Homo sapiens: one gene and its partners. The protein of the gene in region 3 binds, or shares a complex with, the protein of the main gene of each other region. Each region holds a gene or a part of one and is shown on either strand. Other genes may lie near its edges.

Evidence for each region.
Region 1: CACNB3 (region 3) and CACNG1 share a complex: the UniProt entries of both Homo sapiens proteins name them as parts of the calcium channel complex.
Region 2: CACNB3 (region 3) and STAC3 share a complex: the UniProt entries of both Homo sapiens proteins name them as parts of the calcium channel complex.

The regions. Positions count from the first base shown.
Region 1 is NC_000017.11:67,054,494-67,057,394, reverse strand, and holds the end of CACNG1 (voltage-dependent calcium channel gamma-1 subunit), read right to left. Parts: intron 2,293-2,901; coding exon 2,155-2,292; intron 1,351-2,154; coding exon 1,124-1,350; 3' UTR 598-1,123; downstream 1-597. UniProt on the Homo sapiens protein: Regulatory subunit of the voltage-gated calcium channel that gives rise to L-type calcium currents in skeletal muscle. Regulates channel inactivation kinetics.
Region 2 is NC_000012.12:57,245,416-57,248,187, forward strand, and holds part of STAC3 (SH3 and cysteine-rich domain-containing protein 3), read right to left. Parts: coding exon 2,711-2,772; intron 1,487-2,710; coding exon 1,389-1,486; intron 1-1,388. UniProt on the Homo sapiens protein: Required for normal excitation-contraction coupling in skeletal muscle and for normal muscle contraction in response to membrane depolarization. Required for normal Ca(2+) release from the sarcplasmic reticulum, which ultimately leads to muscle contraction.
Region 3 is NC_000012.12:48,821,342-48,824,998, forward strand, and holds part of CACNB3 (voltage-dependent L-type calcium channel subunit beta-3), read left to right. Parts: intron 1-2,002; coding exon 2,003-2,125; intron 2,126-2,339; coding exon 2,340-2,462; intron 2,463-2,916; coding exon 2,917-3,032; intron 3,033-3,327; coding exon 3,328-3,392; intron 3,393-3,607; coding exon 3,608-3,627; intron 3,628-3,657. UniProt on the Homo sapiens protein: Regulatory subunit of the voltage-gated calcium channel that gives rise to L-type calcium currents. Increases CACNA1B peak calcium current and shifts the voltage dependencies of channel activation and inactivation.

The DNA of each region.
Region 1 (2,901 bases), on a different chromosome or scaffold from region 3:
TGTGGGCCATACAGCAAGAGGGGGCAGGCCAGGTGTGGCCTATGGGCCATAGTTTGCCAAACCCTGCCCTAGAAGCGTGAACTCCAGTGGGTTCTCCGGGGTGCAAGGCAAGGATCCCATCTGCCGATCATGTCTGAACTCCACTTTGGAAGCCTGGGCAAGTACTGCGGGGTTTTGGAAGGCAGAAGAGTGCAAATCATGGCTCTCCATGTGGCCCTAAGTGTCTAACTGCTAAGCCCTGCTTCCTGATGTTCTTCACAAGAAAAATCCAACATCAGAAATCAGACACTGGCTGGCTGCTTTAGCGCTGTGTTGGCACCAGGTGCGTTGCATGCCAGGCTCTAGAAATAACCCCTCCTATTTTTAACACCCTTGCTTCATCAGAGGGTTTCTAGTTTCTCCCGAAAACAATCTCAGGGCCTAGAGATACGAGTTGGAATTCAGAGCCTCTAAGCCACGTGCGTTGCCCTCTTGTCCCCACAAAAGACCTCAACATACCCGGGTGACCGGCCTTTCCTTCTCATTCGGCGTCAGGGGAGCCCCTGATGTGACTGGGAATCCGAGCGATTTCTATGCAAGGCTCCAGGAAAGCATGAGTTTTCTGAGAGCTTTTTATTTCAAGCCACAGTCAGATTCTACCCAGTTAAAAATGCTTCCCAGGGCTCCTGGAAGCCAAGGAGGGGACGCTGGGCTCACCAGAGAGGGTGTGTTTTATCACCGAGAAAGAGACAGGCTGGCTATTTACACGGAACACCCAGCTGGCAAACACAGGTTGTCCCTGCAATGTTCATAAAGGACAACTGGAGGCAGCTTATCAGAGGCTGGTACAGTGGGGACACCTCTGAGCTCCAGGGGAAGTTGGGCCCCTGCAAACACCTGTCCACCTGCTGGCTCTGCCTCCCCCAACTGTGGCCAGGTTAGGACTCACGTCTTGCTCTATTCCCAGGGGAGCCTGCGGCAGCCCAGAGGAACTCAGAGAGAGGAAGCAGCCTGCGACTGTTGCAGGGGGGCAGATGGGAGCAGGGTGGGGCTAAAATTGCTCCCGCCTCCTCTCTGGAAGGTTCCAGGCCAAGACCCCGCTTCCTGGGGAAGAAGCCTGAGGGTCGCTAGGGCCGCAGGAGGGTTAGTGCTCGGGCTCAGCATCCATGCAGGACTCCCATGGGTTCCGGGGCATTCGAGGCAGGGAGAACAGCAGGAGGGCGAGACCGCCGAGAAAGAGGAGGATGAAGGCGGCACAGGCGCAGGCAAAGGACCAGGAGTAATAGTACTCGATCCAGACGGTGTCCTCACTGTCAATCATGCGCTTCACCGACTGCCGCATGACCTCCACCGAGACGAGGATGCAGAGACCTGGGGGCAGAGCCAGGCATGCTCAGGGACCGAGGGGCGTCTGCCGTAGCCACCAGCCCCATCCCAGCCTGTGTGCATGGAGGAGGCGGTGACCTTGCCTTGGGGGAAAAGCTGCCTCAAGGCAGGTTCTAGATGGGAACCTGCAGAAGGATCCATTTGTCCACCCACCACCCTATTCCTGCATCCCTCAGAAGGGCAACCATGTGGCCAGGTGTGGTGGCTCACACCTGTAATCCCAGCACTTTGGGAGGCTGAGGCAGGAGGATCGCTTGAGGCCAGGAGTTTGAGACCAGCCTGGCAACATAGTGATGAGCCCTCCGTCTCTACAAAAAATTAAAATACAATGAAAAATTAGCCAGGTGTGGTGGTGCACGTCTGTAGTCCCAGCTACTAGGAGGCTGGGGCGGGAGGAACCCTTGAACCCAGGAGTTCGAGGCTGCAGTGAGCTGTGATTGTGCCACTGCACTCCAGCCTGGATGACAGAGCGAGACCCTCTTCCTCATCCCCCAAGAAAAAGAAAGAAAGGTGACCACGTTTCTTTCCTTCTTTTGTTAATCATTCTCTGGGCAGTTTCTTTGGGGCCTTGAGGGTTGAGTCGTGGAGAGGAATGGACAAACCGCCAAGCTCTGTCTCCCTCCAACCCACCTGGAGTCGCTGATGGCCTGGCCAGGTTTGCCCCTGGATGGGGATGGAGCCTGGGAAATGCCCCTCACCCAAATCTCGCGGTGGGCATGAGGGTGGAGCGGAGAATCCCCCGCGACATGGTCCCCCGGCCCCGGCGCTCAGGCAGATCCCCCAGTCTACCTGCAAAGGCATAGAACATGGACGCGGGTCGCAGCAGATAGTCCCTCTTCTTCCCGAGGGACAGGAGGACACAGAGGCTGCCCAGGATGATGAAGCCAAGGCTGAAGATGGCGATGGCGGCTGCCGAGATGCTGTACTCTGCAAACACAAGGGACACCCAGCATGCGGCCTCAGCATGGGAGCTCTTGTCATGGCTCGTTAGGGACCACACCATGCACCACAGTGTGTGTGTCAGTGTCTGTGTGTGTCATTGTGTGTGTGTCAAGTGTGTGTCTCTGTGTCTGTCTTGTGTGTGTCATTGTATGTGTGTATCTGTGTGTGTGTCAGTGTCTGTGTGTGTCATTGTGTGTCATGCATATGTGTCAGTGTGTGTCTCTGTGTCTGTCATTGTACGTGTGTGTCAGTGTGTGTCTCTGTGTCTGTGTCATTGTACGTGTGTGTCAGTGTGTGTCTGTGTGTGTCACTGTGTGTCATTTTGTGTGTCATCATGCATGTGTATCAGTGTGTGTCTGTGTCACTGTGTGTCATTTTGTGTGTCATCATGCGTGTGTGTCAGTGTCTCTGTGCGTCTGTGTCTTGTGTGTGTCGTGTGTGTGTATCTGTGTTGTGTGTGTCTGTGTGTGTCAGTGTGTGTCTGTGTGTCTGCCCACTCACCCTGTGTGCAGCTGTCTGGGCGCAGGCAGGCACGGGTCTGTACTCCCGACAATGGGTGTGCGTCTGAGCTCTGCGGATCCTGAAAAGCTCCCA
Region 2 (2,772 bases), 8.4 Mb from region 3:
GGCTGGAGTGCAGTGGCGCAATCTTGGCTCAGTGCCAGCTCCGCCTCCAGGTTCACGCCATTCTCCTGCCACAGCCTCCTGAGTAGCTGGGACTACAGGCGCCTGCCACCACGCCCGGCTAATTTTTTGTATTTTTAGTAGAGACGGGGTTTCACCGTGTTAGCCAGGATGATCTCAATCTCCTGACCTCGTGATCCACCAGCCTCGGCCTCCCAAAGTGCTGGGATTACAGGCGTGACCCACTGTGCCCGGCCATGCAGGGACTTTCCCTAAAACATCCTATCAGGTGGGTCACCCACATTCTGCTTGAATGTAGCTAAATAACAGGGAATTCACTACCAGATTCCAGGTCCTTGACTATGCTGTCAGCCTTTAAAAATACTCCAGTGTGTAAGTAAAAAGTGAGCAGCATGGTCAGGCGCGGTGGCTTATGCTTGTAATCCCAGCACTTTGGGAGGCCGAGGTGGGCGGATCACCTGAGGTCGGGAGTTCGAGACCAGCCTGACCAACATGGAGAAATCTCCTCTCTACTAAAAATACAAAATTAGCCAGGCATGGTGGCACATGCCTGTAATCCCAGCTACTCGGGAGGCTGAGGCAGGATAATCGCTTGGACCCGGGAGGCAGAGTTTGCGGTGAGCCGAGATCGTGCCATTGCACTCCAGCCTGGGCAACAAGAGCGAAACTCTATCTCAAAAAAAAAAAAAAAAAAAAAAAGAGCAGCACAATTTTTATAATTCCCTTAAAAGAATATAACCCAAGAGTATGTTAGCCCTTCTGGAAGCAGCCATATCACATTGCTAGTGCCTTACAAGTCATTAATTCACTCCATAGAAATCCCTTATCTGTGTCCAACCTCCATATCAACAAGTTTGAGGCCAGATTTCTAGTTGTTTTTTGCAGTTGATTTTTTTGATCAGATATGTACATTTATCTTTTCTTTTCCCTTCCTTCCTTCCTTTCCTTCCTTCCTTCCTTTTTTTTTTTTCTTGACAGGGTCTCACTTTCTCCCCCAGGCTGGAGTGCAGTGGCTTACTGCAACCTCTGCCTCCCGGGTTCAAGCGATTCTCCTGCCTCAGCCTCCCAAGTAGCTGGGATTACAAGCGAGCACCACCACACCCGGATTTTTTATTTTTATTTTTGTATTTTTAGTAGAGACAGGGTTTCACCACGTTGGCCAGGCAGGTTTCGAACTCCTGACCTCAGGTAATCTGCCCACCTCGGCCTCCCAAAGTGCTGGGATTACAGGCGTGAGCCACCATGCCTGGCCGAGTTTTGTGCAATTTTAGGGGAAGACAATCCATTACTTCTGTCAGCTTTCCAAATGGGAAAATGACCTGCTCCATGGGATCTCTGGGAGGGACCTCGTGGGGAGGTACAGTGCTCACATTTTTCTTATCTGCCTGTCCCTTCTTCCGTTCCTTGTTTGCCATGATCACCCCAGTGCGCAGGGTTTCAAACACAGGATCATTGCGATTGGCAGCAGCTAATCGAATGGGAGGAGAAAGAAGACATTATTGGGAAGGCAGAGAAAGGCTTGGAGGAAAGGAAGGGAGAGGTGGGATTGAGTAGATGGATACCCATGTGTGTGTTGGGTGGCGGTGGGGGCGCCGCGGGGAAGATTAGGGAAGGGTCAGCTAGGCAATACCCAGGACACCAATCTATAAAGGACTTTAAAAACATCACTGGTGATGTAAAGTGAGGGAGGAAAGTATTTATTAGAACTCCTTCCAGGCAGAGCATTATATGATGTTTGAAACACAACTTTGCTTGCTTGGGAGCTGAGACATGCGCAGAATCACTATTCTCCTTCTAAGGAGAATGGGCCCTTAACTGCTGGCTTTTGTTCTGCTAAATGGCATGTGTAAGCTGAGGTGCTGCCACCAATAGGTTCTTCTTTTTCACCCATGCTCTTCACAGAGTTCAGCCTCTCCTCCAAATAAATGTTGAGCAAATTTGTCAATGAATATGTTTTTAAGGGTTGCCAAATTATTATTATTATTATTATTATTATTTTTTTTTTTTTTTTTTTTTTTGAGACGGAGTCTCGCTCTGTCACCCAGGCTGGAGTACAGTGGCACAATCTCGGCTCACTGCAAGCTCCGCCTCCCGGGTTCATGCCATTCTCCTGCCTCAGCCTCTCCGAGTAGCTGGGACTACAGGCGCCTGCCACCACGCCCGGCTAATTTTTGTGTGTTTTTAGTAGAGACGGGGTTTCACCGTGGTCTCGATCTCCTGACCTCGTGATCCACCCGCCTCGGCCTCCCAAAGTGCTGGGATTACAAACGTGAGCCACCGCGCCCGGCCTGGGTTGCCAAATTATGAACCTGCCCAGGGTGCCTGCAGCCTTTGGGTCTTGCCCCGAGTCTGATATGACTCTGTAGTAAGGATGAGGACAATCTAGAATCCTTGTTCTTGCTTAGAAATGATTTTGCACACAAAGAGCACAGATTCTGAAGCTAGCAACTGAAGATTCCAGTCTTGGCTCTACCTCTTGCTAACTGTATGTAGTTGCAACTAAATCGTATCTCCCTCTGCTGTAAAATGGGGATATTGCCTCTGCATCCAAATGGATATAAAAATGTGAGGTTGAGGGAGAATTATGGGAAACAGAAAGTTTCTGTTTCAGAATTTGGCTCCCAAAGCTAGAGATGGCATGAAACCATCTCTAGGCTTGCCCATTCCCTCATGTTCCATAAAGGGCACTTACAGAGATCTTTGACACAAGCGTACTGCTGGTTGCTGTAGAGTGGGGAACTATAGGCCCGATGG
Region 3 (3,657 bases):
GGCATGGTAGCGCATGCCTGTAGTCGTAGCTACTCAGGAGACAGGAGGATCGCTTGAGCCCAGGAGTTCAAGCCTGCAGTGAGCTACGATTGTGCCACTACACTCCAGCCTGGGTGACAGAGCAAGACCTGTCTCTAAGTAAATAAATAAAATAATAAAAATAAAGATTACTAAATTGGGCTGAGAGCCTGGAGCACAGGCAGAAAAGGTCAGACTCCTCTTTTAGCACAGTTCTGGGCCTCTGGGAGGTACCCAATGTATCTGTACCAAAGCGAGTGGTCATCTGCCTTGCCTCCTGCCTCCCAGTCTGTTGGCCCCTGTCTGGTTGCTTCAGACACCAACATCCCACAGAGGTTTCTCTTGTGTCCTAAGACCCCTGGGAAGGAGGTCCCTCACCCTGTGCAAAGATTATTTCTGGGGTTCATCCCCCACTTATCCTGCTGCCATCCAGCCTCATTTTGTTCTCAGGAGAGATGAGGAACAGTCGGCGGACTACTCTTCTGTAAAATGAAAGATCTTTCCCCCTTGTGCTATCTTCAGGCCTTTGGTCTACTATAGACACTGTCTTTAGCCTAAGGCTCGAGAGCCTGGGCTGACCCCTAGCTGAACAGCCCTCTTGCCCACGGCAGGGTAGGGGTAGAGGGCATGGTTGACAGCAGGTATGTGATTTTGCCTTCTTCTCTGAGAGTCTGGCCTCTGCTGCCTTCCGTAGGTGGTCATGCCCAGTGAGCTTGAGAGAATGTTCCTCTACCTGAGGACATTCTAAAGCCCCTTCCCCTATACACACACACACTCCTGCATGAACCCCTTATCTAGGCTTATCCCTTCTCTCTGCCACTGGCATCTCAGAATTGTGGGAAGTATCACTTGAGGCTTCTCCCCACAGAGAGGGAAAACTGAGGCAGGAAACGAAAGACTCCCTTTCCCTGACAGAGGAGGAAACCCAGACATTGTAACCTCTGGGCTCTTGTCTCAAAGTCCAGCGTCCCTTACTCATTTGTGCCTCTCCCTCATGGTCTTGAGGCTGAACTCTGTGACCGTCAAATGCACCCTCATTGCCCAAGACCTTTCCTATGGGCAGGACTCAGAGACTCTCCTTGCTCATGTTACCCCCTCCCCACATCCCCGGGGTCCTGCTCCGTAGCTAGGTTGCCTGGCACTAGCATAGCCTTCTTCTAGGGCTGATGTCCCCTGGGCCTGGGAAAGGACTAGGGAGATGTAGGCCAAGTGGTAGGTGTGGCCCAGCCTCACCTGCACCCAGGGAGACAGCTTTGTGTTCTTGGTCTGTGTCTTGTTTGCTGCCCACACCTGGCTAGTTGCCCCAGCAGGTGTGGAAGGAAGAAAAGTAGGGGGTGGGGAGAGCAAAGGGGAGGTAACTTCTAGGAGCTGGCAGCTTTGTGTCCTCCTCTTCACCCTGGAAGGGTAAGGGCTCACCATTTGGGAGCCTTCAGAGCCTTGTTGGAGTAGGGAAAGTGGAATCTTAGGGGGCAGATGGCTGGATCCCCACATTCAGGACTGGTGCTGTGCCAACCAGCATCTCTTGACTGTTGCGGCTGGCTGGACTCCTGACAGGCATCTTAAAGGGATGATGTCCAGGCTGCTTTGCAGGCTGCTATGAACAAGAGGGCTGGGTCTCCTGGATCCAGAATCATCTCTAATACATCATCTTCAGCACACCTCCCTTCCCTCGGCTCAGAGGACATGTTAGAGGGGAGAAAAGGGAGGAAAGAGAGAAGTGAAGGCTCTATTCAAAGCTGCAGTATTAATAGGCTTGGGGGAGGAGGGGCCCAGATCTTTGCACCTATGGATTGGGCCAGCTTTCCTGTAGCCTCAGAGGCACTGGGGCCCTTCTCAGGGGATAGGAGGGGCCATAGGGACCCAGCTATCCCCTTGGAGATGGAGAAACTGGGGGCAATAGAGGCAACACTGTAAGGTGAGGAGGGTGCCTCCATGGCATCCTTCATGCCGGAGCCTGGGAGTCACAGCCTCTTTCCCAACCCAGGGTTCAGCCGACTCCTACACCAGCCGCCCATCTCTGGACTCAGACGTCTCCCTGGAGGAGGACCGGGAGAGTGCCCGGCGTGAAGTAGAGAGCCAGGCTCAGCAGCAGCTCGAAAGGGCCAAGGTATACTTTCTGGGCATGGGGCAAGACAGGAGGCCAAGCTAGGTGGAAACCTGCACTCGGTCCTAAGTCCCAAGGGGTCCTTGGGCAGGATGTCCTTGAGTGTGAGAGGGTGTGTGTGATGGGCAGAGGCCACGGCCTTCTGCTGTTGGGGCACTGAAGCTGGAAGGGGTGCTTCGAGCCTTCTCTCACTTGCACTAATGGGCAAATTCTCCAGCACAAACCTGTGGCATTTGCGGTGAGGACCAATGTCAGCTACTGTGGCGTACTGGATGAGGAGTGCCCAGTCCAGGGCTCTGGAGTCAACTTTGAGGCCAAAGATTTTCTGCACATTAAAGAGGTGATCGACCCCCCTACTTCCAGAAGCCTCTAACTTCATTTTCTTGCTCTTGCTCCAGATCCTAATGCTTCTGACTTGAATCCTCAGTCTAATTCCCCAAGCTAATCAGCTCTTCTCCTTAACACACACCTGTCCACCCCTCATATCTAAGATCTCATCCCCAGGGTCTCCATCCTTCTGAGACCTGGCTTGGGCATCAGTCTCCATGTCTGTCAAGTGAGCAGTTAGATTAGCTGCCTCCGAGGTCCCCTGTGACAGCTGCAATGCCTCACTCAGAAATCCTGGGTGGCCCGAACTTGGCTGTCCTTTCCCCTGGCCCCTTCTGCCCACCGCCCCTTGCATTGCATTCCTCAGACCAGCTCAGTGACTGCCTCGCTGGCTCCTTCACATTGAAGAGCCAGGACTGGGGCGGGGCGCTTCTCTCACCACCCCTTCCTGCTCCACCTGCCCCCAGAAGTACAGCAATGACTGGTGGATCGGGCGGCTAGTGAAAGAGGGCGGGGACATCGCCTTCATCCCCAGCCCCCAGCGCCTGGAGAGCATCCGGCTCAAACAGGAGCAGAAGGCCAGGTGAGAGTTGGGCCATGAGTCAGTAAACACACCCCAAACACTTGCACTGTACCCACAGGACACGTCACCATGCATGCCATACACATGCATATCCCCCTGAAATACACATACACGTATGCCCAGCTCTACACACTCAACACTAAACAAATCTACAAACACACACACATATTGCATGTACACCTGTCTCACTAGATAAAGCATATGGAATTGTGTACAATTATTAAATAATGCATAGAACATACATACACAGAGACACATTCTTCTCTCTCTCTCTTTCACCTCCCTTTCTTCTCAGGAGATCTGGGAACCCTTCCAGCCTGAGTGACATTGGCAACCGACGCTCCCCTCCGCCATCTCTAGGTAGCCTCCCCCCAACCCACCCATTTTGGGTAGGTGGGTAGCTAAGACACAGGGAAAGAGGGGATCCTGCCCAAGTGAACTGTGTGGGAAGGGTTTGTGGAGGGATTGGAAGGGGTGGGGAGAAGCCAGTATCTCCCCTGGGGACGGGGATACCATGCCCCCAGGGACCTTTCCCCCTTCACCAACTTTAATCTTGTATTTCCTTTTCCAAAAAGCCAAGCAGAAGCAAAAGCAGGTGAGTCAAGGAAGGGACCTGGGCTGGGGG